Linked DNA regions of Homo sapiens: regions 1, 3, 4, 5 and 6 are each linked to region 2. The links come from fine-mapping of genetic effects on gene expression. A gene starts in region 2. Each other region holds a variant in brackets. All regions are shown on one strand. Distances are from middle to middle.

Evidence for each region.
Region 1: its variant is fine-mapped to the expression of BIN3 in putamen (GTEx, PIP 0.95).
Region 3: its variant is fine-mapped to the expression of BIN3 in whole blood (INTERVAL, PIP 0.98).
Region 4: its variant is fine-mapped to the expression of BIN3 in whole blood (INTERVAL, PIP above 0.99). The same link has a PIP of 0.9 or more in blood mononuclear cells.
Region 5: its variant is fine-mapped to the expression of BIN3 in whole blood (TOPMed, PIP above 0.99).
Region 6: its variant is fine-mapped to the expression of BIN3 in whole blood (TOPMed, PIP above 0.99). The same link has a PIP of 0.9 or more in adrenal gland, aorta, atrial appendage, caudate, cerebral cortex and esophagus mucosa.

What each region holds. Positions count from the first base shown.
Region 1 is chr8:22,787,912-22,792,012 of GRCh38, forward strand. All of the region lies in intron 4 of PEBP4 (phosphatidylethanolamine binding protein 4), which reads right to left. Among named protein-coding and RNA genes, the nearest start is that of PEBP4-AS1, 88 kb to the right of the region's middle. The variant G/A (reference allele first, on the strand shown) is at 2,459.
Region 2 is chr8:22,666,956-22,671,056 of GRCh38, forward strand. BIN3 (bridging integrator 3) reads right to left here and starts at 2,166. Exons shown (of 9, transcript NM_018688.6): 1 at 2,089-2,166. The coding sequence starts at 2,096. RefSeq lists a silencer at 1,866-2,025 and enhancers at 1,889-2,518, 2,276-2,335.
Region 3 is chr8:22,568,199-22,572,299 of GRCh38, forward strand. SORBS3 (sorbin and SH3 domain containing 3) reads left to right here. Exons shown (of 21, transcript NM_005775.5): 17 at 950-1,075; 18 at 2,712-3,023; 19 at 3,520-3,623. Among named protein-coding and RNA genes, the nearest start is that of PDLIM2, 10 kb to the right of the region's middle. RefSeq lists an enhancer at 3,682-4,101. The variant C/T (reference allele first, on the strand shown) is at 1,987.
Region 4 is chr8:22,632,727-22,636,827 of GRCh38, forward strand. BIN3 (bridging integrator 3) reads right to left here. Exons shown (of 9, transcript NM_018688.6): 4 at 3,799-3,860. Among named protein-coding and RNA genes, the nearest start is that of BIN3-IT1, 7.4 kb to the right of the region's middle. The variant C/T (reference allele first, on the strand shown) is at 1,688.
Region 5 is chr8:22,613,281-22,617,280 of GRCh38, forward strand. It overlaps CCAR2 (cell cycle and apoptosis regulator 2), which reads left to right. Exons shown (of 21, transcript NM_001393997.1): 9 at 812-1,034; 10 at 1,110-1,223; 11 at 1,558-1,721; 12 at 2,145-2,316; 13 at 2,402-2,632; 14 at 2,732-2,968. Among named protein-coding and RNA genes, the nearest start is that of CCAR2, 11 kb to the left of the region's middle. The variant T/C (reference allele first, on the strand shown) is at 2,431.
Region 6 is chr8:22,618,586-22,622,673 of GRCh38, forward strand. It overlaps CCAR2 (cell cycle and apoptosis regulator 2), which reads left to right. Exons shown (of 21, transcript NM_001393997.1): 18 at 32-143; 19 at 242-430; 20 at 565-770; 21 at 1,053-1,886. The coding sequence ends at 1,097. BIN3 (bridging integrator 3) reads right to left here. Exons shown (of 9, transcript NM_018688.6): 9 at 1,833-2,983. The coding sequence ends at 2,837. Among named protein-coding and RNA genes, the nearest start is that of CCAR2, 16 kb to the left of the region's middle. The variant T/C (reference allele first, on the strand shown) is at 1,709.

The DNA.
Region 1 (4,101 bases), 120 kb after region 2:
AGGGCTGGGGAAGGGAAGGGTTTACGTTTCGTTGATAACGCGTTGTGGATGGGCCTACAGAGCGTGCAGGGGGAGGCGTGCAACGGGCCCACAGGCTTGGAGCTCTGGCAGAGGAAAAGTGGGTGTGGCTGGAGGCTTCAGGGATGCACGGGCTCATCCTGGGAACATATGAAGGGAAGGGGGATGCTGGGAGAACCAGGAGCAGCAGGCAGGAAGCCAGGTAGAGGGAGGGAACCTGGGAAGGATGTTGAGAAGGACTGGCCAAAAGGGCAGGTGGCAGTGGGATCCAGGTAGCTGAAAGATGAAGGGGTTTCAAAATGGGAGAGGGCTTCTAACTATCACCGAGAAACCCCTGGGACAAGAACTGCATGTTTCCATCAGAAAGTGGCTGCCAGGGGGACAAAGAAGGAGCAGGGAAAGACGAATGAGAAGAGAAGAGGGAGAAATGGCAAGTGCAGCCTGCTCTTAGGCGGAAGCCGTGTGGCTATGAGGGCCCATGAGAGGTGACGCAGGGAGGGAAGGCCCTAGAAGCCCTGAGTTATGGCAGTGGGGACCGAGGTTGGCAGGCTGGGGCACAAGCAGGGTCCTGGCGGTGTTCAGAGTCTCACCCATACTGCGAGGAGTACCCAGGACAAATACCTACACGTGTCCCATCCTGGGCCTCGGTTTCCTCATCTGTAAACTGGAGAGGCTGGACCACAGCCTTGCTAGGTCTCTTTTCAACTCTAAAATATGACTGTCCTGATGGTTATTCATATGCTATGAATTCTAAATTGATACAAGGATTCTACATTGATAGAAATTCTAAATTCTGGATGGCATTTTAGTTAACATGTACCAAAAAGCCTTTGAATATGCAAAACCTTTGACCTCTGAGAATTTATTCTCAGAAAGTCACCACAGAGGTGAATGAAGAGTTGTGTATTCACAACTTTGTTCATTGTAGCGTTGGTGATAATATAAAAAAAAAGCAGATACAACCTAATGTCCAATAGTAGAGGATTGGCTGAGTAAATTATAGTACATCCATATGGTAAACTACTTCTGCACTAAAAATCATGGTTTAGAAGATTATGTGTTGACATGGGAAAATGTTAATGATATATTGCTAAGTAAGAAAGCAGGCTACATTGCAGAATGTACAGTATGATACATTCATTTTCAAAATTTTTGATTAGGACACAGACCAAATCTTTAATTAATGTCATTTTTTTTCTTTTCTTGGCAAGCAAGAAGAGTATTATCTAGAATATTGTAACTAAAAAATGAAACAGAAAGACAGTTATACACTAAGTGTGTTCACAGGAATTTTTAAGTCATTAGGATGGAGAGTAGGCTGTCAGTGAGTCAAGGAAGCGGAGAAATTCTGAAACTATAGAATTTTAGAAGCGGAAATCACCCCTAGAGATCGTCGGGCCCAACCTCGCTTTTTTTGAGACGAAGAAATTCAAGCTCCTAGGGAAGTCTAGACAGTGACTAGTCAGAGATGGGGGTGGGTGCCAGCCTGAAACTAGGGTCGTCCAACCTTCAGTTTATGCTGGTACGTTTGCCACCCCTCAGAGAGACCCCGCTGATACTTAAGAGGTGACTCTATTCCTAAGCCCCCTGAGGTGGGGCTGTGGGCTCCTCCCTTCCTCCCAGCCTCTGAAGACCTATGCAGCTCAAAGCTGCTCTAGGCCACAGGAAAGTACCTGGGCCCACTGCAGAGCTCTGGGGCAACGTCTGCAGCAGCATGGGGGTCCTTTGCGAGCTGATCCAGTGCCCCAAAGGGAAATCAGTCTCTGGGTGGCCCAGAGCTAGGCTTCACTGTCTTCTTAAGAAATGGATGCTCACCTTGTCAAACACTTTTGTGACAGACATGATTCTCCTTCCTCCAGAAAAAATTCCTCTCCGCCTCCCACTCTGCTAACCCTCCAATGCAAAGACAGCACTTCATTTTTACCGAGTTCAACATCTTCGGGGACAGGTGCAACGGGCAGATGCCCTGTAGTCCATGTTGATTTGGTAATTCTGTAGCACTCTTTCTGATGCAAGAGAGAGGGTGTTGGGCCTGGCCTTCCAGGATGGGGAGTCCAATGCCTCTTCTCTGGCCCCATGGCCCGCTGACCCCCATGGCCGCTCCGTCATCCCTCTCCTGGGCCACTGAATAGCCTGCTAGCAGATCTCCCTGCTCCTCCCCATCAACCCTCTCTAAGTCTCAGCACCAGAGCTGTGGTCTTTATTTCATATGCCTGTTAACTTCCTTTTGTCATCCTTCAACCATTGCATGGGCTGTTTGATGATTCTTTCCTTCCTTCCTTCCTTCATTCACTCATTTATTTATTCATCACATGTGCAGGCAGAGAGCTAGGTGCAGTTTTGCCCTCAAGGAGGTCACAGTCCAGAGTGGGGGCAGAGACCCTTAGAACCAATTATCCTCAGGCCATGTGGAAGCACCTCCTGAGGGGGTAGATACAGG[G/A]ATTCAAGGGATGACGAGGGCCCTGATGGCTGAGGTAGACCAGGAAGCCTGCTTACATCGGTGGGATTTGAACCGTGCCTTGGCATACCGGTGGGGGAAGAGGGGCACGGAAGAGGAAGACATCCCAGACAAGGCCCCTAAGCATGGCAACAGCTTAGCAGGGGCAGAAAACACCAGGGATATCTCGGCCTTGCTGGGGCTGGTTGGGATGATGGGATCACGTGGGGTGGAGGGGGAAATAAAAGCTGGGCTGGGGCCTGACCTTGAAGGGTCTTGTGGCTACCTTTGAAGGCTCAGTGTTCTAGTTCCGAATTTGTACATTTTACAGGCTTCTGGAGAAATGAAGAGTTGGCTCCTTTCTCAGCAAACAGACGGGGTTTAATTGCTGTTACTGTCAGTGTAGTTGCAAATATCATATAAAAAGGGCTTTTTGGCTAATTGTTTTTAGAAGAAAAATTCAAGAACTATGTATAGATATTATGCATCCAGGGTACTTTAAAGATCAAACTGTTTATATTACCCTTAAATACAGTCTTTAGCAGGCGGCACTGGGCTCTGTGAGTAACTGGGACACACGATGACCCCCCAGGGCTTAAGATGCTGGAACAATATGACAGCAGTTACTTTATTTCTGAGGGGAGGTGGGGGTGGTCAGCCACTACCCTTTGATAGGCCAGAAGACCAGATGAATAGAGATCTAAGCTGGGTAATGTTGCTGCACCATTGCCCTAAAGGGCTGCCTCTTCACGCAGGCAACCAACCTCCCCACCCCAGACACACACAGAAAGAACTGGATTCCACGGGCTTCTGGGGGTGCAAGGGGAAGGGGCTGCCATATCTAGTGGGCTCCTGGAGAAGCTCGGGCTGAGGAGCAGAGAAGGGAGCAGCCTCAGAGCTTCTCATCTTGTCTCCGGTCCTGCAGTCTTCTTTCCTCACCCGCAAATGGTAGAGAGAGGAGTTTTGAGCCGTACAAATAAAGCAAATTCATATCTGCTCATTGCCATCCTGTCCTCATGCTCAACCCTCTCTCAAATTTTAATTTGGTAGCTTTTAGAAAGGCAAATTTATTTGTGACACCATCCAAATTCTATTTTATTGGAATCCTCTTCTCCAAGGGTGCGATCGACTACCGAGAAAGCTGTGGGCTTCTCCTTTTGATATTTTCCCAAGCTCTCTGTGCGTTCGCGCGTGCTTGTGTGTGCGCGCACACGCATGCACATTCATTTTAGGGTCCTCTACATATTTTACGTACAAACACATAATGCATATTCACAAGGCAGCCGCGGAAGTGTAGATATATTCATCACATATATGTGTAACTCAGTGCAGACTCCTAGAAGCCAATATTTAAGTTATCATATTTAATTTATTCAACAAACATTTAATAAGCACTTACTCTTCATTAAACACTGTCCTAGGCCCTGAGTGTACAGCAATAAACAAGTCAGACAAAGCCTGTGCACTAGGGGGCTAACATTTAAAAGCACTGGATTCTTTTTTTTTTTTAGACAGGGTCTCAATCTGTCTCCCAGGCTGGACTGCAGTGGTGTGATCATGGCTCACTGCAGCCTTGAACTCCTAGACTCAAGTGATCCTCCTGCCTCAGCCTCTAGAGTAGCTGGGACTACAGGCACACACCACCA
Region 2 (4,101 bases):
AGTGAATCAGAAGGACCCAGCCCCGGTCTCCTTGCCAGCCATTGAGCTAGGAACTGAGTGTGATTGTGTGCCCAGGCGCCGGTGCTGTTCCCGTCTTTGAGAGACAGGGTCAGGGTCCACGCAAGAGATGACGTAGAAGCCCTTTAAGGGGGAAGAGAAAGGAATCTCAGCTTTGAGGGACAAAGCCACCCTTCTGGCTGTGACTCTCAGTCCAAGGAGATACCAAGATGTGCATGTACTGGTAAATTAAAGCTACTAGATGAAAATCTCAGCTCTTGTTAGACAGTTGTCAATCTCAATTCTCTCCAACCTGACAGGATAACCTTTAAGGAATGGGCTACTATTTTTTCAGAAGGGAAACTTTCTGTGAGACAGGTGGAAACAACCTGCTTCGGATCACCCAGAGAATCATTTACCTTTATTAGTTTCTGCTGTGCTCTTCTCCCAACTTGTGAAGGAAAGATTGGTTCAGTAAAGGCCAATCTAGGCAATATAAAGCATCTGTACTGCCTCATTTTCACTTTGAAAAATTAGGTAAGAACACTCCAAAGATTCAAGACGCAGCAGCCAAAAGGATATCTATATTGCAAGACTGGGGGGCCCAGAATGACACTGAAAGGACGTAATTCCTCTGGGAAAGGGAACTGAAGAATTGCCGCTTTGCCCACCACTAACTAGGTTATAACAAGACAGGGAAGGTAGCTTTTTAAGGCTCCAGCCCCTTATTGGCCTCCTGGAGCAAATGGTGGAGGGAAAAGCAGAAGCTCCTGCCGGGGCTTATTAGGACATTGCTTCAGGCTTTCCTCCCGTGCTTGCGGTGATTGTCTGACATTTGTCCATCAATCTTGGTCTAAGAAACAGGTGGGGGAGGGGACAGATGGTTCGCATTTTACTTTAGAGAAGTATCCCTGACACTGACTGATATCAGCTGCTTGCGTTCTCCACTGATGGCCAAAATTAAGCTTCAAAAGCCTTCCTGAAGGACATTCTGTTATCTTAATTCATTCATAACTGGTTATCATGCGCTTTGCATAAACAAACACACTAGCCTCTGAGGACAGAGTGGCAAATATGTTCCCTATGTCCATGGGCTGATTAATCTTGTACATCTCTGGGGCTCAATTTATTCACACACTATAGTTGAATCCCCTGAGGTCCAGGGTTGTGGCTATATAGGTCCTTGGGCCTGACGGTAAGGTAAGGTGCTGCATATGAGTATTCTCTAACCTCTAAGAAAGCCCCAGGAAGGCAGGCAAGTCACAATTCTCTCCTGTGAACATAAATAATCGAGAGCAACAAATGGGGATTGCCTTTTGGGCAAACTGAGTCTTACAAAATAAATACACCATTATGAAGTGTCTACTATGACCCAAGTATCACATCATACTGCAGCAACTGGAATTGTGACTCTATTACTCTAAGACTCCCTGGCTTCTTTTCTCATGGCATGATAGTTCCCATAAGTTTAAACTTAACCATGCCTATTTAGAGGGCAGGCAGTGAGTAATAGCTCTGGAATGATTAAAACCAGTCCAATCCCACAGTGGAAGGGTGTGTGCGGAGTGTAATTCTGGCCCCTTTAAAAAGAGAAGCAAGTTTTCCTTGTCTTTTGAAGCCTGCTAAGTCGTGCAAAGAGGATAGTTACCCAGAAGGGAGTGGGTTTTGATTAGTGAACTGGGTCCAGGCTGCCACAGCGAGGGCCACAGCTCTGGAGGGACTGGCGCGGGGCAGAGATGCCCACAGGAGAGAAAGACGACACTGACTCCACCTCAATGGGTGTTTAAAAAAGGAGGGAACAAGGAAGTCCCTCACTTCAAGGAGCTAGGAGGACGCGAGTCCGGCAAAACGGGTCAGACGCGGAGTCCCAGGCTAAGAGGATCATCCGCCACTCTCCCCGGGAGTCCTGCTGAGAGACTGCGACTCCGGAAAGCACCGAGGGAACGACCCTAGGGCAGGGGCTGTCGGGCCTTGCTCTGGGGCGGAGGGGTCGCGCGGGACCGGAGGGAGCCGGGACGCGGCACTGACACAGGGCCAGGGGCCTCGCGGGTCCGCGGGTCCAGCAGCTCCCGCCGCCTGGGCCTCACTCACCAGCTCATGGTCCCGAACCTGCGTCTGCCGCCGGGGTCCTCAGCCACAACTCGTTTCTCTAGGGTCACTTCCGGATTCAACCAGTCTCCAGGAAGTGACGTAAGCCCGCCTCTCTGCCCGGAAGAGGCGGTTGGGAGGCGGAGCCCGGCGCGTTAACCCTTCTGCTGCTGCGTGCTCGCCGCGGAGTTTCCCTTGCCGGCGACTCTCTGGCTCTGGCCAAGCGCTTAGACACACAGGCTGCAACGGGGGATGAGGGGAACCTCTGGGGGCGTTTTCTGCCTTCAACACTGACTCCTAAAGATCTCTTCACCTGACCATGCAGGGCCCTTAGCCGGGCTGTCCCCTCTGTCAAGTGGTTTCTAATCCAGAGACAGTGGCAGCAATTGTCTGTGGGAGAAGAAGCCATTTGGGATGGAGAAAGTGGAAAACTTACATTCTCTGAATGCTCTTTCCTATCTTTTACAGTTTGTACACCACACATGCATTACCTGTTACAAACAAACGGACGTTTCCCTTCCAAGATGGCACAGGGCTCTGAATATCAATAGATAGGTGCTTTTCAGGTTGGAATGTTTCCTAGAGTTATTCAACACAATAAGACGCAGAGTATGAGTTGTTCCCTGCCTTTCAGCCCTTCCCTTTGGTCTCCTCTACAGGACTCAAATGATGTAAATTGCCCCATTCGTTCTATTCCTTCATTTAACTAATACTAGTTGCACTAATATTAGTGTCAGGTACCGAGCCAACCTTAGGATACAGCTATCTCAGAGAAGTATCTGCCCTGCTCTTGTTCCTTCCCAGAGCTACTTTCCTGGAGGGAGAGACAAGCAGGCAATTATAATCATGCTATAGGATAGGATAGAATGAGGTGTGGTGGCAGCCTAGAAGGGGACCCTGAAGTAGCACATGGGGTTTTGGGGAAGGCTTCCAGGAGGAGCCAGTGTGTAAGCCAAGCCCTGAAGGCAGAATCGGGGCTAGCCAGGTGAATCTGAGATGAGGGGTGACGAGGCTCCAGGCAGAGGGAACTTACCATGGCTAAGACACAGACAGGACCAAGCAAGCAGCTGACTTGCCTCGGGTCTCCCAAAGTCAGAATTCAGGGCCTTAGTGGCTCACAAGTTGCCTGGGATTCTGGGCCGACTTGGTTTCCTCACCGCTAAGTACCTCCCTGCCTTGGAAGAGAGACAAGAAGGCAGTGAGGCCCGTGCAGGTGCTGCTGGGCCCCCAGTGACCTTCTCTCTAGGAATTCTCCTTCCTCAGATGGACCGGGATTGTTTCAGGGACTGCTTAGGGGGTTGCTAATCAATGACCTAGCGGGAAAAATATGACCAATGACCTAGAGCAGAAGTAGTGTATGATTTGTTTTGACCTCCTAGGGTGGAGTAGAGGGCTTGAGCAGGAGAGGTAGGAGGGTGGGCCACAGGATGCAGTCTCTCATTTGTGTTTTCTGTTTCCATTCTTGAGAGTCCATAGTTTGACTCAATTGACGTTTCCAATGGAGGTTGGATCCCCAAGCACATCATGCAGATCAGCTTCATTACCATGTTGTTCCTCAGGAAACAGGCCAAAATGAGCACAAGAGCAGCCTTGAAGAGTAAAGAGGAAGAGCAGAAGTCACCAAAGGGTAGCCTGGGCAGAGAGTGTGGGTAAAGGGAAAGAGAGAGTCCTTGCTGCTTTGCAGAGAGTGTGACGGATGGAAGGGCTGTTGTGGGTTTAGGAGCCTCCTGGCAGTTAGCACCTGTGAATAGTTTTCCCACCTGCTTCCTCCCTTCCCCATGTTCTGCCTCCCTCAGTTATGCCCCACAGGGATAAATATTTCCAAACGTTTTAGCCTAGGTAACTGCTATATCCTAGTAGAAGTCTGTTTCAGGGCTGGAGGGCAGCAGACACATCCTAGAGGACTAGAATGGATAAGTTCTGGACTACAAGTCTGGAGGAGTCTGCGGCTCTATTTCCAGTTCAACCTTTGACACTATAACTGACCTCAGATAAGTCACATCCCCTTTGTGGCCT
Region 3 (4,101 bases), 99 kb before region 2:
ATTCTGTCTAGAGCTTTATTAATTTACTTGATCTTTGGATTTTATTCATGTTTTTCTCTCGTTTTTGTTTTCGATTTCATTGAGTTCTGCTTCTTATTTGCTTATTGTTGCTTGCTTTTGGTTTAATTTGTTATTTTTCTAAGTTTCTTAGGATGAAAGTTTAGACTATTGATTTGAAACATTTTTCCCTAGAATGCTGCTTTAACTGCATCTCACACATTTTGATTTTTCATCAACTCTTGACTGTTTTCTCATCTCGTCTGTGACTTCCTCTTTGACCCATGGGTTGGGTTGTTGTTTAATTCAGGCTCTTGTTTTGATAGGTATCATTAGGCCTCCCTTGCTTACACGATGATCCACTTGGTCCTGAAATTTCACAAAGTATATACAGTATTTCACTCCGCCAGTCGTTTCTATCTTTGTGTGAAATGGTTTATTGGCTGCTTGATTTTTATGGGCAGAGTGAAGCAAAGAGAACGTGAGGATTCTGGGCTCCGGCTGGGGTAGATGGGGAGGAAGAACCGAGACGCTGGAACCCAGGGACACCCGGTTCTCAGCAGTGAGAAAAGGGTGAATGCTCAGTTTTGGAACAGTTCCCCAAGTTCCCCTTGCTGCTTGGAACGCCTCATTTTCTTCTGTGGTCCAACTTAAACTCTCTAATTGGACTGGCTTCCATCTTTTCTCTTGGAGTTCTTCACTTCAGTAATGCCCACTCCATATATCCCTATGGAAAATTCTTCTTCCAGGGAGCGTTCCCAGACTCCTCCCCATCCTCCAGCACCCTTTGGCTGTGCCCACCCGTGGCTGCCCCCAGGGCTTGTGTCTGGTGTTTATATCTTTTCTCTGCCTAGGGGCGGGCCCACCTTCTCTTTGCTGTCTCACAGGAACCCCCAGCCTGTGCTATGTTGATGCCCAGGCCAAATCTTTCTCATGACCTTTCTTCATGCAGGTGCTGCCCGCAGATGAGATCCCTAAGCCCATCAAGCCCCCGACCTACCAGGTGCTGGAGTATGGAGAGGCTGTGGCCCAGTACACCTTCAAGGGGGACCTGGAGGTGGAGCTGTCCTTCCGCAAGGTGGGCCAGGCCGGAGACGGAGGGGTGGGTGGGGGCAGGTGAAGATGTAGGTAAATATGTGCACTAAAAACAGTTTTTTTTTTTTGAGACAGAGTCTCACTCTATCGCCAGGCTGTAGCGCAGTGGTGCCATCTCGGCTCACTGCAACCTCCGCCTCCCGGGTTCAAGCAATTCTCCTGCCTCAGCTTCCCGAGTAGCTGGGACTACAGGCACGCGCCACAACACCCAGCTAATTTTTGTATTTTTAGTAGAGACAGGGTTTCACGATGTTGGCCAGGATGGTCTCAGTCTCTTGACCTCATAATCCACCCGCCTCAGCCTCCTAAAGTGTTGGGATTACAGGCGTGAGCCACCGCGCCTGGCCTAAAAACACTTCTTTAAAAAAGAGTCCGATGTACCTAGCTTCACCCAGGATTTCAAAGTTTTCCCCAGTCTCTTTCATTATGCTTCCTTTAGTGTAGTGGCTTTTTTTTGCTTTTTTTTGAGACAGCATCTCACTATGTTGCCCGGGCTGACCTTGAACTCCTGGGCTCAAGCGATCCCCTGTCCCTGCCCCAGCCTCCCAAGTAATTTTGGTCCATTTTTAAAAGATCATCATAAACTTCTAGAGTTACATATATATTTTTTCAACTGCAGGTTGCAGGGGATCATACTCAGCATTTTTAAAGGTATAGACAGAAATGTTAGCATGCGTTGCGAGCAGAAAGCACTTTATCATACCGTAGGCAGTTCTGTGTATGCACATATATATGTATTCTGGGCTGTTATTAAAACATTTTTAACTGTAGATTGTGGTGAAACAAGTTTGAAAAATGCTGTTCTAGAAAGCAGGGAAGTGGTCTGCCTTTGGTTGATTTTGGGAGCAGTGATCATGCTCCCAAAATAAGCGAAAGACGGCCCATAGTGAATGC[C/T]TCCCAGAAGAGCTGGCCCCAGGGACAGAGGGGGAAGAAGGTGGCTGGATGGAGACAGATGGGGGCAGGAGAGGACAGGGGAAGGCAAGGGCTGGAGGCCACCCTCCCAGGGGGTGGTTCTACCTAATGTCAGCCAGCCTGTGGCCTTCAGGACTCCCTGCCTGTCCTGGGGAGTGTGTTTTTGACACGCTCATGACAAGGTCCCCCAGCGTGAGGCAGGAACAGGACCCAGGCAGGGCAGTAGTGGTAGCACCTGTCCAGTGTGTCTAAGGAGTGGACTGTTGATCTCGTTCACACCTCATAGTGACAGTATGGTTATTTTCACTTAACATAGGAGAAAACAAGGCTCAGAGAGACAGAGCAGGCTGCCTGAGGCCACACAGCTTGGCCTGGTGGAGCTGGGTTTGGATCTGTATTATTAGCCACGGGCTCACCTGTGATCGGAGCTCTGGGGAGGGACCTTGCTATGAACGCCGAAGGGGGATGCACACCCGTTGAGCTTCCAAGAGGCAGGACCCAGTCTCAGCCTCAGCCTTGCCTGGGCAGCCTGGGCTTGGCTCCTGGCTCCTGCTCTTACCGTGTGACTCGGGTAAACTGCTGGCCCCCTGCGATTCCGACCCCTCGTGTGTCCAAGGTGTTAGGGTTGAATGAGACAGCCCAGATAAGGCACCCGTGGGTCCATGGCACCAGGAAGGCCCCACAGACACTGACTTTTCCCCCCTCAGGGAGAGCACATCTGCCTGATCCGCAAGGTGAACGAGAACTGGTACGAGGGACGCATCACGGGCACGGGGCGCCAAGGCATATTCCCTGCCAGCTACGTGCAGGTGTCTCGTGAACCCCGGCTCCGGCTCTGTGACGACGGCCCCCAGCTCCCCACGTCTCCCCGCCTGACCGCTGCCGCCCGCTCAGCCCGTCACCCCAGCTCCCCCTCAGCCCTGCGCAGCCCAGCTGACCCCATCGACTTGGGGGGACAGACCTCCCCCCGTCGCACTGGCTTCTCCTTCCCCACCCAGGAGCCTAGACCCCAGACCCAGGTGAGGTAGCCTGCCTCCACCAGAGAGTCGACCTCCTCCTCACCCCTCATCCCCCACCCCCGTGACTTGTCCACACTTGGGACTCCTTCCCAGACAGCCCTGGGACATAGGAGTGGGGTGACAGGGCAGAAGCTAGTATGGCAGCCCCACCCTGGCCTGGGGGACCTCAACCTACCGAGCTCTAGCCGAGGGAGCTCTAGATGGAATCCCAAAGCCGGCCCAGGCTCCTGACCCTGGGTGTTCTTGGTTCATCCATGCTGGCGTCCAGAAACCCAGGCACTGACCTTACTTGGGCCTCAGTTTTCTGGCCCCTGTGAAATGAAATAGTCACAGCAGGTGTCCCTGTGCCCTGGGGGTTTGGAGGCTAAGATGAAGCCGTTTGTAAGGCGTGCTGGCAGGTGGACTGGGAACGCCCATTTTGGGCCTCCTCCCTCAGGCTTACATGTACCCATCGTCTTCCTCCCTCTGACATCCCTTTCTTCCTGTCAACTCCCAGAATCTTGGCACCCCTGGTCCAGCTCTGTCCCACTCTCGAGGTCCCAGCCATCCCCTGGACCTGGGGACCTCCTCTCCTAACACCTCTCAGATACACTGGACCCCGTGAGTACCATCTGAGGGCTCTTGATCAGACGTGGGGGGGGTCACTGGCAGGCAATGCCCCATATTCCACCCTCCCCCAAGTCCCCACCTGTGGATTTGGGAAACTTCTACCAGGTAGCCCTTGTCCTCGAAGAGCTTATGGTGATTTGGGGCAGGGAGGAGGCGCTGGTCTGTGATGTTCCCAATCCCTCCTGGCAGCTATGTGGCCTTGTGGCCTTGGTCTCCTCATTGGGTTTCTAGCCCTGAGGTCGGTGCATGTATAATTGAAGTGTGGAACTGGTGGAATGGACAGGAAGGCACCAGGTGCTCAGAGGAGGCGAGGGTTCAGTGCTTAGGGCCCAGAGGGCAGGAGGCAGGCCTGGGAAAGACTACGGTGAGCACAGGCTGAGTTGCTCTGAGGAGCTGGATCAGGGGCTAGTGAGAGCATGAAGGGACCCTGGGGCATTCACAGGAAGCGGCAACACTTGGGTTAGAGCCT
Region 4 (4,101 bases), 34 kb before region 2:
GGAGTTTCGCTCTTGTCACCCAGGCTGGATGGAGTGCAATGGCATCATCTCGGCTCACTGCATCCTCCGCCTCCTGGCTTCAAGTGATTCTCCTGCCTCAGCCTCTCAAGTAGCTGGGATTACAGGTGCCTGCCATCACACCCACCTAATTTTTGTATTTTTAGTAGAGACGGGGTTTCACCATGTTGGCCAGGCTGGTCTCGAACTCCTGACCTCAGGTGATCTACCTGCCTTTGCCTGCCAAAGTGCTGGGATTACAGGTGTGAGCCACTGCGCCCAGCCCAGCTGCATTTTCCCCTTTCTTTCCTAAAGCTCTTGCATTGTCAGGAAGTCAAGGAACTGAGTGGGCTCAGTGGCCGGCCCTGGGCAGAACTGGGTCTGGAATCCCCGCCCAGTGATGCCCCCGCTTCATGTGAGCAGAGCAGAGCTGGGGTAGATGACACCAAGAACACCATGGTCTTGGCTGGGCGTAGTGGCTCATGCCTGTAATCCCTGTGCTTTGGGAAGCTGAAGCAGGAGGATCCCTTGAGCCCAGGAGTTCGAGACCAGCCTGGATGACACAGTGTGACTCTGTTCCCCCTCAACAAAAATAAACAGCAGGTCTCCATGCCCCTCTGGACCTGTGGTCCCTGCCCCAGCCCATACCCCTCATTGTTCCCTGCAGGGACTGGGAGAGGGGCACAGTCAGCCTGGCCCACACCAGGAGGCTGGTGATCTTTGAACCTTAGAGAAAGTGAGGGTCTTGGACCCCACCCGGGTCTCTGGAGTCCTGATGCGGCCTCTGGAATGTAAGATTCAAAGATTCACCAGAGCACTCTGAAAGTAGTATGAGTTTCTGAAAGAAAGGTCATCTTTTTTAGAATAACTGGGGATTTTCCACCTTGCTGGGGGAGCGCAGGAGATTCCACGCTCAGGAAAAGCATCCCTCCATTCCCCTCAACTGTCCAGATCAGTGGAGCTCACAGTGTGGGCCTCAGCATCACCTGGGAACTCCAGGGACACACATTTTCAGGTCTCGCCCAGCTCATGAGTTAGTTGGAGGCTGGAGGTGGGGCCCAGCGGCCCACGGCACAGCAAGCCCGCCTACAACACTGATGCCCCGTACATGAGACTGATGTGGCTGTCAGGCTCGCCTTGGCCCCATGACCACCACCACCGCTCTTCAGAGGCACTGTCTCTGCCCACATCCATTCCTGACTGAGGACAGTAGTGTTAGGCTTCTGCAGTTACCCATTCAACTCTGGTTTCTCTGCTGGGAAACTAAGCTTTCCACAGCCATGGACGGTGCGTCACGGACCCCTGATGCCCTCCTTGGTTCCGTAGCAAGCCACTGTGAACACAGCACACCCTGGCTTCGTTTATGCTCTGACAATGCAGCTGTCTGCAGAAGCAGGAAGGAAAGGAAGCAATGGCTCACAGCAGCTCCCGAACTGGAAAGGCAGTGGGGACCGATCAAGAAAAATGCGACCCAAGTAACTCAGACCTGAAATAACTACAAAACAAACAACTGCAGACAAACTCCCAAATCCAGTCCTTGGCTTGTGACACACATAGTTTGGCAACGCTAGAGGCCAGGAGCAAGGTGCATGTTCAGACCAGCCCACGGCCCAGGAATTAGCACTGGCATGAAAATTCATGGCACAGACCAAGACGGCCACAGTCCCTGCACAGGCAGTCAGCGCTCACC[C/T]GGGCATGGTGGTGGTGACGGCGGCTCCCAGGGAAGGAACGCTTTCCTTTTGTGATCAGTGCTTTGTAGGAAAGGTGTGTTTACACATCAGTAACTGGCTGAGGCTTAGGAGCTGGCATAAAATGGGAACAAATTCAAATCACTGCCTCTATTGGGACATTTCAAGGGTTTTCCTCGTAACTGCAGTACCAAGTAGGAGCACACTGGTCCTCAAGTCCCACCCGTAGGTGCCCACTGCCCTGTGGCCCTTTGAATGGTGTCAGGAGACAGTGAGGCCGCCCCATTTGCACTAGGCTCACAGACAGCCAAGCAAAGAGTGGATGGGCAACGGTTCCGGAGTGGGGGCTGTTTCGGTCACCTTCTAGTTTGGTGGCGGGCACGGGGGTGGGCAAAGGAATGAGTGGGGCATGGGGAGGCTTCGCTGTGGAGACAAGGCCCTGGACTTGGAGAAGAGGAGCTGAACTCTTCCTCCTTTATCAAATGGACATGCCCATTTATAAAATGGGTGTGTCATGTGCCCTGCCAATCTCAAGGTCAGAAAAGCTCAGGGAGGTGAAATTTCTTCACAGCCATAACATGGCATTATTCAGCAGCTGGAGTGGCCGAGGGGACTGAAGATGGCTTCTCCACCCTCCTGCTGCCTCTCCTGCATCTCTGGTCAGCGTGCACCACCTTAGGGCCTCCGCGCTTGCTGTCCACTGTGTTTCAGGCCCTCTTCCCTTGGCTCTACCTGTGTGGGTTATTCATTCCTTCAGGACTCTGCCCAGGGATCACGTCCCCACGAAGGCCTCCCTTGACCCTGTCACTCTCCACCTCCTTATTTTTATTGACCTTGCACGCCACGACGTGTCATTATATACCGATCCGCTTGTGGACCTCTTGCAGGTCTTCCTCCTAGAACGTAAGCTCCCATCTTGTCTTGCTGTTGAGTCTCTAGTGCTGAGAGTGCCTGGTGCACGTGGGTTCTCGGTCAGCATCTGCTGAGTGAGAGGAAGTGGGCAGTCCTGGCCATACCCAAGTCTCTTTCAGGTCCTCGTCCCAGTGTGGTATATAGACACGGCTTCCCCACTGGACCCAGGGAAGGAGCTGCAGGAGTCCACCCAGTCAGGGAGGCTTGCTGCCGACCATGACGACGGTGATGACAGGAGCGGACACCCCGAGAGCTGACCCGTGCCAGGCCCTGTTCTCAGTGCTTTACGTTGCTCATCCAACTTCATCTTCAGCAACAGCCTGTGCCACTCGGATTGGCGTTACCTGTGCTTCTCGGGTGACGGAACTGAGGTAGAGCTAAGTCAGCTGTCCAGAGCTGCGCAGGGAGTGCTGAAGCTATTGATCAACCTTTGGTCAAGTGCTTGCTGCTCCGGGGTGGGAAAGTCAAGGCCTTGGAGAAAGAACCTCAAGGAATGGTCTCCATCTCTCCCGGCTGCTCGTCGCCTCCTTCCTGGGACATGGCCTGCAGCAAGGGCTCTGGATGCTCCCTTATTCCCGACCTGCTTGTGTCTCTAGGCTCCCAGGCCTGGTTCCTCCTTGTTTCAAACAAGAGCTCTCCAGCCAAGAAACCTCCCCAAGGGCCCTGGCTGTTTCCCAGCACCTGCTGGCCCCCACTTCCCAAGGACCTCCCGGTGCCCTTTGTCATCATAGAATTATCTGGGGTATTTCTGGCCTTACACTTTAACCCAACCTCCTGTTTAAACACATGACAGCTTCCATTCTTGTTGCCACTGGAGCGCCTGTCCCAGCAGGCCACGGAGTCTCGTTTCTGCGGGAAGGAATGTGCTTCCCTTTCCCTCTGGACAGCCTGAGCCGGTGGCCAGGATTCTGAGGCAATGGAGGCATCTGCTACCAGAAGCTTCCACCAGCTGCTGTACTGTCCTGACTGGAGTCCCAGGAGAGCCTTGCCCCAGCACCCACATCCAGAGTGGGGCAGTGCGAGCTCTGTGCAAAGTGGGATGTGACTGGTGAGGAGTGACTGCCCTGAGGCTGCTTCTCAGGACACTGGGTACACGTCCTCTGAGCGCAGCAACTTCAGAGCCCTTGGGGGGCTGAGAGAGGAGGGTGCCCACCTCTGCCCCACCTGCTCAAGCGAGTGGTGCGGGTGGAAAGTCACCTACCCAGGTCTGCGTCGGTGCTCTTCTTCATGTCTTTCTGCAGCCTCCGGGTCTGCTCTTCCAGCCTGCAAGGCAGGGGACGGGCTGCTTGGGGTCCCCTTCCTTCCCCCTACCTGAGCGAAGCCCAGGTGCTCTGGAGGGCCTGCCAAGGAGGAGGAGAAAGGGATCTTCTCCACGGGGACTTTTCCCGCTGACTGAAGTGCCACTACACCCAAAGGCTATGAGTGAATGACTCTCACATGGCCATTGCCAGGGAACAGTTCCAGCAGCCTGGTGACCTGAGCTGCCCTCAGCTTCCAGGGTGCT
Region 5 (4,000 bases), 54 kb before region 2:
ACTGTTTGGTGGTTTGCCTTTTCACTGAATGTACTTTAGATTTTATTTCGTATGAACATTTATTAGATCTAGTTCTTTTTTTTTTTTTTTTTTTTTAGCAACTACACAGTATTCATTGAATGGATGAACATGATTTATTTACCCAGTTCTCCATTTGCACTCTATCCTAAATTTTCTTGGAATGAACATCCTTCTACCTACACCTGTGTGTTTGTTGCGATCAATTTCTAGAAATGGAGCAGCTGGCTCAAAGGCTTTGCTTTAAGCTTCCATAGCTATTGCCAGTTCTCCTGAAGAGGCTGTGCCCCTTCTGCTCTAACCAGTGGGGTGTGGAGACCTTATTTCCCCGTGCCGTTGCCAACACTGTTAGCCGACTTTTTCATCTTTGTCTGTCTAGTTGGTGACACATGATAATGTGGTTTGCATTTCTTTAATTGTAAGTGAGATTGAGCATATTTTCCTGGCCTCTAATTCTTATGTATTTCTCTTAAGAACCTATTGATGTCAATTTTCCGTTTTAGGCTTTTGAACTTTTTGTTACTGATTTGTGAGTTCCTTTATATTAAGGCAATGACCCATTTCTCTGTCATGTGTTATAAGTGTTTTCTTTTTTCCCTTTCCCAGTTTGACTTTTGCCATCTAGAGTTTGTAAATTAAGTGGTCAGATCTGATCTAGCTTCCTTGAGAGGTGCCTTACTTCAAAAGTTCTCAGACTGAAAAAAAATTCGCCCATTTTTTCAAATCTTTGATGGTTTCATTTCGAATGTTTTAGTCTTTGCTCAGTCTGGATTCCCTTGCTGTCTTCCTGTAGCCCCATCTGTGACTTCCTAGAACTCCAGCGCCGTTACCGCAGCCTCCTGGTCCCCTCAGATTTTCTGTCCGTGCATCTGAGTTGGCTATCAGCCTTCCCCCTGAGCCAGCCCTTTTCCCTCCATCATCCAAGCCGGATCCAGGTCTCTTCTGAAAAGGAGGCAGCTCCAGACGCTGGTGCTGAGCCCATCACTGCAGACAGTGACCCCGCTTATAGTTCGAAGGTAAGCTGACAGGCGTCTCTCACTTATCTGATTTCTGGAGGCTGAAGGCAGCTCTGAGTGTCTCCTCCTGCACAGGTACTGCTGCTCTCTTCCCCGGGGTTGGAGGAATTGTATCGTTGTTGCATGCTCTTTGTGGATGACATGGCTGAGCCAAGGGAGACGCCAGAGCATCCTCTGAAGCAGATTAAGGTAAGAGCTGGAGAGCAGGAGGAGATGCATTCACGGGTAATGTGCACAACCTGTCATGTTTTGAGTGTTCGGCTCCTGTTCCTGAATGCATAAAACGAGGCATCTCAGAGCCGAACACCCCTCATTTCACCCAGGAGGAAGGTGCAGCTCAGAGCTGTTACGACTAGTCAGAGAGAGCGAGGTGGCTGGTTCATGTTTGCAGATAGAGACCTCACTGTGTGGTGGACTTCCCCACTTCCGGCTGCCTTCATCCTGATGGGTGGCAGCCTTGCCCTGCAGTGGGAGACCCAGGTAATGTAGTTTTTTGTTTTGTATCCCTGATCTCTTCTTGCAGTTTTTGCTGGGCAGGAAAGAAGAGGAGGCAGTGCTGGTTGGGGGTGAATGGTCTCCTTCCCTGGATGGCCTCGACCCCCAGGCTGACCCGCAGGTGCTGGTGCGTACCGCCATCCGCTGTGCGCAGGCCCAGACTGGCATTGATTTGAGCGGCTGTACCAAGTGGTGAGTGGGCTTCCTGAGCCTCAGCTGCACCAACGCACCAGGTTGGGGAGGTTTTGTTGGGAAGGCCCGGTCCCTGCCCCTTTCTGCTGGTTAGCTCTCTGCCCCCTAGTCCCGTTCCTTCCCCCTCTGGTGCCTCAGGGTAGGGTGGGGTGTATGCCAAAATCTGGCTGAGCCACCAGGCTGCACTTGAGACTCCCTGGAGTTGTCCTTGCACCTTGTAGGGTGCTTGTGTGGTTGCGGCCTCCCCACTGACTGATCATTTCTTGAGGACTTGGTCTGTAGCTTTCCTGTTGTGTCTTCAAAGCTTGGTTCGCAGTGTGTGCTCATTGAGTGCTGACTGGAAACTGAAGCCCTTGCCTGTGAACGTGGTGTCTGCGTGGAGTTGTCACTAAAGAAGTTAGTACCTCCTTTTGCCATGTGCAGGTGGCGCTTTGCCGAGTTTCAGTACCTGCAGCCGGGACCCCCCCGGCGGCTTCAGACAGTGGTGGTGTACCTGCCGGATGTCTGGACCATCATGCCTACTTTGGAGGAGTGGGAGGCCCTGTGCCAGCAGAAAGCTGCAGAGGCAGCTCCCCCAACCCAGGAGGCACAAGGGGTAAGGCTGTGCCTTAGCCAGCAGCGGGGGATATAGGTGGCCTAATCCCGGGACCCAGAGGGTCTCATTTCAGCTGTTGTCACAGGAAACGGAGCCTACTGAACAGGCACCTGA[T/C]GCCTTGGAGCAAGCAGCAGACACTTCTAGACGGAACGCAGAAACTCCAGAGGCCACCACACAGCAGGAAACGGACACTGATCTCCCAGAGGCCCCTCCACCCCCCCTAGAACCTGCTGTCATCGCACGCCCTGGCTGTGTAAACCTGTCCCTCCATGGGATTGTGGAGGATCGGAGGCCAAAGGAAAGGATCTCTTTTGAGGCAGGTGTCAAGAGTCTTGGGGAGGCTGTGGGCTGGGATTTGTGGGCCTGAAGCAGTCTTTCTTCCTGATGCTCATGGACCCTCCCACCTCCCCATCAGGTGATGGTGCTGGCCGAGCTGTTTCTGGAGATGCTCCAGAGGGATTTTGGCTATAGAGTTTATAAGATGCTACTGAGCCTTCCTGAAAAGGTCGTGTCCCCACCTGAACCTGAGAAGGAGGAGGCGGCCAAGGAAGAAGCCACCAAGGAGGAAGAAGCCATCAAAGAGGAGGTGGTCAAGGAGCCCAAGGATGAGGCACAGAATGAGGGCCCGGCTACAGAGTCAGAGGCCCCGCTGGTGAGTACCCTGCCACCTCGGGCTGTCATAGTGCTTACCGTGACCGCGCACCTTTACCCCGGGCTCTGTTCCGAGCGCTTCCTGTGCCTTAGCTCATTCCCTGCACCCTTGCTCGGCATGGACTGAGGCCGCACAGCTAGTAAGTAGCACACCTAGTGCAAGGGAAGGTGGCGCAGAGTGCAGGGAGCATGGCTGAGCAGCCTGACAGCACAGAAACCCTTGTCACTGAGAACGCTTGGCAGAGTGGGGTGCTTTGATTGCCTGATGGTTAACTAGAAAATTTTGTAGGCCGGGCGCTGTAGCTCACCCCTGTAATCCCAGCACTTTGGGAGACCGAGGTGGGCAGATCATGAGGTCAGGAGTTTGAGACCAGCCTGGCCAATATAGTGAAACGCCGTCTCTACTAAAAATACAAAAATTAGCCGGGTGTGGTGGTGCATGCCTGTTTTCTCAGCTACTCGGGAGGCTGAGGCAGGAGAATCGCTTGAACCCGGGAGGCGGAGGTTGCAGTGAGCCGAGGTCGCGCCACTGCAGTCCAGCCTGGGCGAGAGAGTAAGACTCTCTGTCTCAAAAAAGAAAAAAAAAGATTTGTAAACCTTTTCTAAAATACTAGTCTGCTTTTTTTTTTTTTTTTTTTTTTTTTTTTTTGGGGAGATGGAGTCTTGCTCTGTCACCCAGGCTGAAGTGCAGTGGCGCAACCTCGGCTCACTGCAACCTCTGCCTCCCAGGTTCAAACGATTCTCCTGCCTCAGCCTCTCTCCAGTAGGTGGGATTACAGGCACCTACCACCATGCCCAGCTAATTTTTGTAGAGATGGGGTTTCACCATGTTGGCCTGGCTGGTCTTGAACTCCTGACCTCAGGAGTGCTGGGATTACAGGTGTGAGCCACCATGGCCAGCTGCTGCTTGTTTAAATACTATCAATCAAATGAATGTAATTTCTTCTGGGACCAAGATCAACTCCTGAGGAAAAAAGCCCAGGTGTCTGGCGATGCCCTGGCATGCTCTGAATCCCACTTAATGAAATTAAAT
Region 6 (4,088 bases), 48 kb before region 2:
GCCTTCTGATCAGCAGATGTGTTTTCTGCAGGCCAAGCAGCTGGTCAGCAGGGTGGTGACCCAGAACATCTGCCAGTACCGGAGCCTTCAGTACAGCCGCCAGGAGGGCCTGGATGGTGGCCTTCCCGAGGAGGTGCTCTTCGGTATGTTCTGGGGCCCTGCAGCCTTCCTGGGGCACGGGCAGGGCAGGCTGCCCTCTCTGGAGACTCCATCCTGAATTCTTTTTCACGGTTCTCTCTAGGAAACCTGGACCTGCTGCCCCCTCCTGGGAAAAGCACGAAGCCAGGTGCTGCCCCCACAGAACACAAAGCCTTGGTGTCCCACAATGGCAGCCTGATTAACGTGGGGAGCCTGCTGCAGCGCGCGGAGCAGCAGGACAGCGGCCGGCTCTACCTAGAGAACAAGATCCACACACTGGAGCTGAAGCTGGGTGAGGGCCTGGGGCTGCAGCCACCATGGGGTCACATGCAGACCAGTAGGGAACCTGCTGCTTAGGCTCAGGCCCTGCCCTGTGCTCTGGGCCTTGATGGAGCAGCCGTCCCCGTTTCCTTCTCCACCTTGCAGAGGAGAGCCATAACCGTTTCTCAGCCACTGAAGTAACCAATAAGACGCTGGCGGCAGAGATGCAGGAGCTGCGAGTCCGGCTGGCGGAGGCCGAGGAGACCGCCCGGACGGCGGAGCGACAGAAGAGCCAGCTCCAGCGGCTGCTGCAGGAGCTCCGCAGGCGTCTGACCCCCCTGCAGCTGGAGATCCAGCGGGTGGTGGAAAAGGTAAGGTGGGGGTGGACCAGGAGGCAGCACAGCTCCTTTCCCTGAGCTCCAAAAGTCCCCAGAAGGGCGCTTGCCCGTGTCGGGAGTGACCAGAGGGCCAGCAGGCACCGGCTTCGTCTTTCCATCGCTTGCCAGGCAGTGTGCCCCTGGTTGCAGGTTCTCTGGGAATTGAGCAGTCAGCAGCGTGCAGTGGGAGCTTCCCAGCAGGAGGCAGTCCGCAGTCCGCAGTCCTCAGATCACCTTGCCAGGCCCGATTCTGGGTACATCATCTGTTTCAAACAGGCTGACAGCTGGGTGGAGAAGGAGGAGCCGGCACCTAGCAACTGACGGCCTCGCACGGAACTGCCATCCTGTGAGGGCAGCGGTGGCGCCCGGCAAAGTTGGAGCCCTTGCGGTACCAGAAAGCAGCGAGAGCGAGACCTGGGAGCCAGGGCAGGGGTGGCTGACCCCATGCTCAGCCTCTAGGGGACGGCAGGCCATCAGGCTGGGGGCTGTGCTATGTGGGATGGATGTGTGAGGAACCCCGGTTCCACTTAACAACTAAATACAACATCTTTTGCACCCCTAGAATGTCATTTTGCCCTCAACCTTGGTATTTCTCCTGGGGCCCTTTTAGTCTTGTGCTGACTTTCTCCTGTCCTCTTCCAGTTTAGAATAAGACAGGGGAGAAAAAGGCTTTTCGAGTGTGGGACAAGGTCTGATGTCAGTGAACGGAACTGAAGAGCAAGACATGGAGCCTGGCTGGGGCTAAGCAGCCCCCTCCTCCGGATGGCACAGGCTCTGCTAGGTTCCGGACACAGGCTTCTGGGGGAAGGGTCTCCCTTGGCCATCACGGGAATGGAGTCCATGCTAGAAAGAGCTCAGTGTTGGGCTGGGTTTGCCAGTAGAACACTGCGTTCCAGTCACCCCGGTCTTGCCAGAAGAAACCAGCACCTCTT[T/C]CCCGTGGCTCCTGTGTTCAGAATGTGGTATTGGCTCTGGCCCAGCCTTCTCCCCTGTTACCCATAATTCTTGCCTCTTTCCATAATCCGTGGTTTCAGTTTGACTTTGTATATAAAGTTGGGGTTTTTTTTTTTTTTTTTTGGCTTGTTTTTTAAATAAACCAAAGTCAAAAACAAACTGAGAGTGTGTCCTCCACAGCTCTTCCTACTCTCCTAGGCTTGCCCGCGTGCCCTCCCACCCAGCGCCTCTGCTGGACCACGGTGCAGTTCGCTCCAGAAGGTGGGCCAGGGCCGGGGAGGTGCGCACACACCCCTGGCATGCTGGGCTGCCTGCTGGAGGGTGCTGCTGCTCCGTGGAGGGCAGCAGGCCCAGGAAGGGGTTTCCTCTGCTCGCCTAAGTTACAGCACAATACTATGTGGACGTTTCATTGAAAATTTTACTTGAAAAAATAAAATTCCAGATACTCAGGTGAGACACAAACCCACTGTTCCTGCTTTGAGACCTGTGAATTCTTGTGGGACAGTTCCACTGACAGCTTGCGTTCCCGAGGTACCAGTCCTCAGTGACCTCGGGAACCCCAACCACTTAGGTCCCAAAGCCACAAGGGTGCCCTTTGTCTTGCTGGGAAGCTGGCTGAGGGCCTGCCAGGGCTGGAGGACCAGCTCTCCCGCACAGGGTTCAGGGCCTCTCCCAGAAAAAAGAGGTTTTGAAGTGAAAAGGCAACGAGGGGCCAGAGGGCTCCCCAGGATGGGTCTTTTGGAGGTAGATTTGATGCCCACAACGCATGCAAGGCTAAGACCCCCAACTTAGCCAACGAAGCCCATGGCCTCAGAAGGGCTGCAGCTTGCTCAGGCCGTGGGCCAGGATGCATGCTGGACGGTTCTCCAAATAAAAAAGCCCCAAGGGTTTGTCTACACTGCTTACCTGCTGGGGCTGTGAGTGGGGAGACGGCGGCCTGCCTAGGGCTCCTGGTGCCAGGCTCAGGAAGAGTCATTCATTGCAAAGGGCCGGCAAGTGAACCAGGGCCACCTCTGTCCCCAGCCTGTGAGAGGAGCAGCTAGCCCTGAGAAGGGCAAGGATGAATGAGGCTGACCACGTCACAGGAGTCCTCCAAGAGTGACGGGGATTCAGTCATCGGCCACAATGGAGAGGGCCCGGAGCTCACTGAGTTTGGCCTCGTTCTCCCGCTCCCGCTGCTCATCGGAGTGGCCTGGCTGGTCAAGCTGATGGGACAGGTCTCCAAAGATCTTGTGCATTTCCGAGTAGTACACAACCTGGGGGAGGCGACAGGGGTTGGCACGTGCTGGCTCCAGGGAACCGTGTGCTTCAGGGGGCCAGAGGCTCACACTTCTCTGCTACCCCCTGCCCTTACCCATCTGGAGCTGTGCAGCAGCGTGCCTTTGGGGATATGCAGGGCACGGAAGGGCTCTAGCTGAGACTGAACCAAAAGGAGCCGGGGAGCAACAGGGCCTCAGTGGCTGGAGGTGGAGGCGCCCCTGCTTCGGGCTCCTGGTTCCCCCAGCAGCAGGTGCAGGAAGGCATGGGCCTCCTAGGGCGACTGTGGAATGATGGGCACCATGACTGGAGTTTTACTGCTTTTTGTAAGCTAGGGGAGAACCCAAGGCTTTTGTCCATGGCAGAAAGACAGCATGGTAGGCTGATGGCTCCCAAAGCCCTAAGCCAGCTTTAGAGGCACAGGCAAGAAAGGGGATGCCCGTCTAGCCTTCTGTTCCCTCCCAACTTGCATCCCACCCTTGCTCATGGCCCAAGCTGCGTGGCCAGGGGGACAGCTCAGAGGCCAGGTTCACTGCCAGGGTCCCTCTAGGGAGGCACCAGAAATGGTGTGGGAGGGGACACAGGGTTGAGGGTGGGGCAGGTGGAGGAATGGGGAAGCCCGTCAATTCTCCCAGATGGCTGAGGACCAGGGGCTTTTCCACAGACAATAGGGGCCACTTCTGCCTCAGTTTCTACCTCATGACCCAATGAAAGCATGCAGTTTCCTGAAAGCTTCCACGTTTCACTCTAGACATGAGGAGGAGCTCTAGACACTAAGGGGACCTTGTGGGAAATGCCAGGTGGGGCGGGGACCCACGGCTGATACTCCTGAGGCGAGATTTCCGCCGGCCGAGGGGGTGCTAAAGTGAGCTGGTCTCAACACACTGCTGTCACCTCTGGGCTGGCGGCGGCCCACCCTGCCCCCACTCCCTGCCCAAGCCACTGTGCGCTGAGTCACTGGGAATACTCACTTCTCCATGACTAATGGCAGCCGGGCGGGCGAGGGGGAGGCTGGGGCCCAAGAGGCAGTCAACAGCCCCCAGCAATGCTGCCTGGTTAAAGGGCATCCCTGGCCTCCCATCTGCTCCAACCTGGACACGCGGG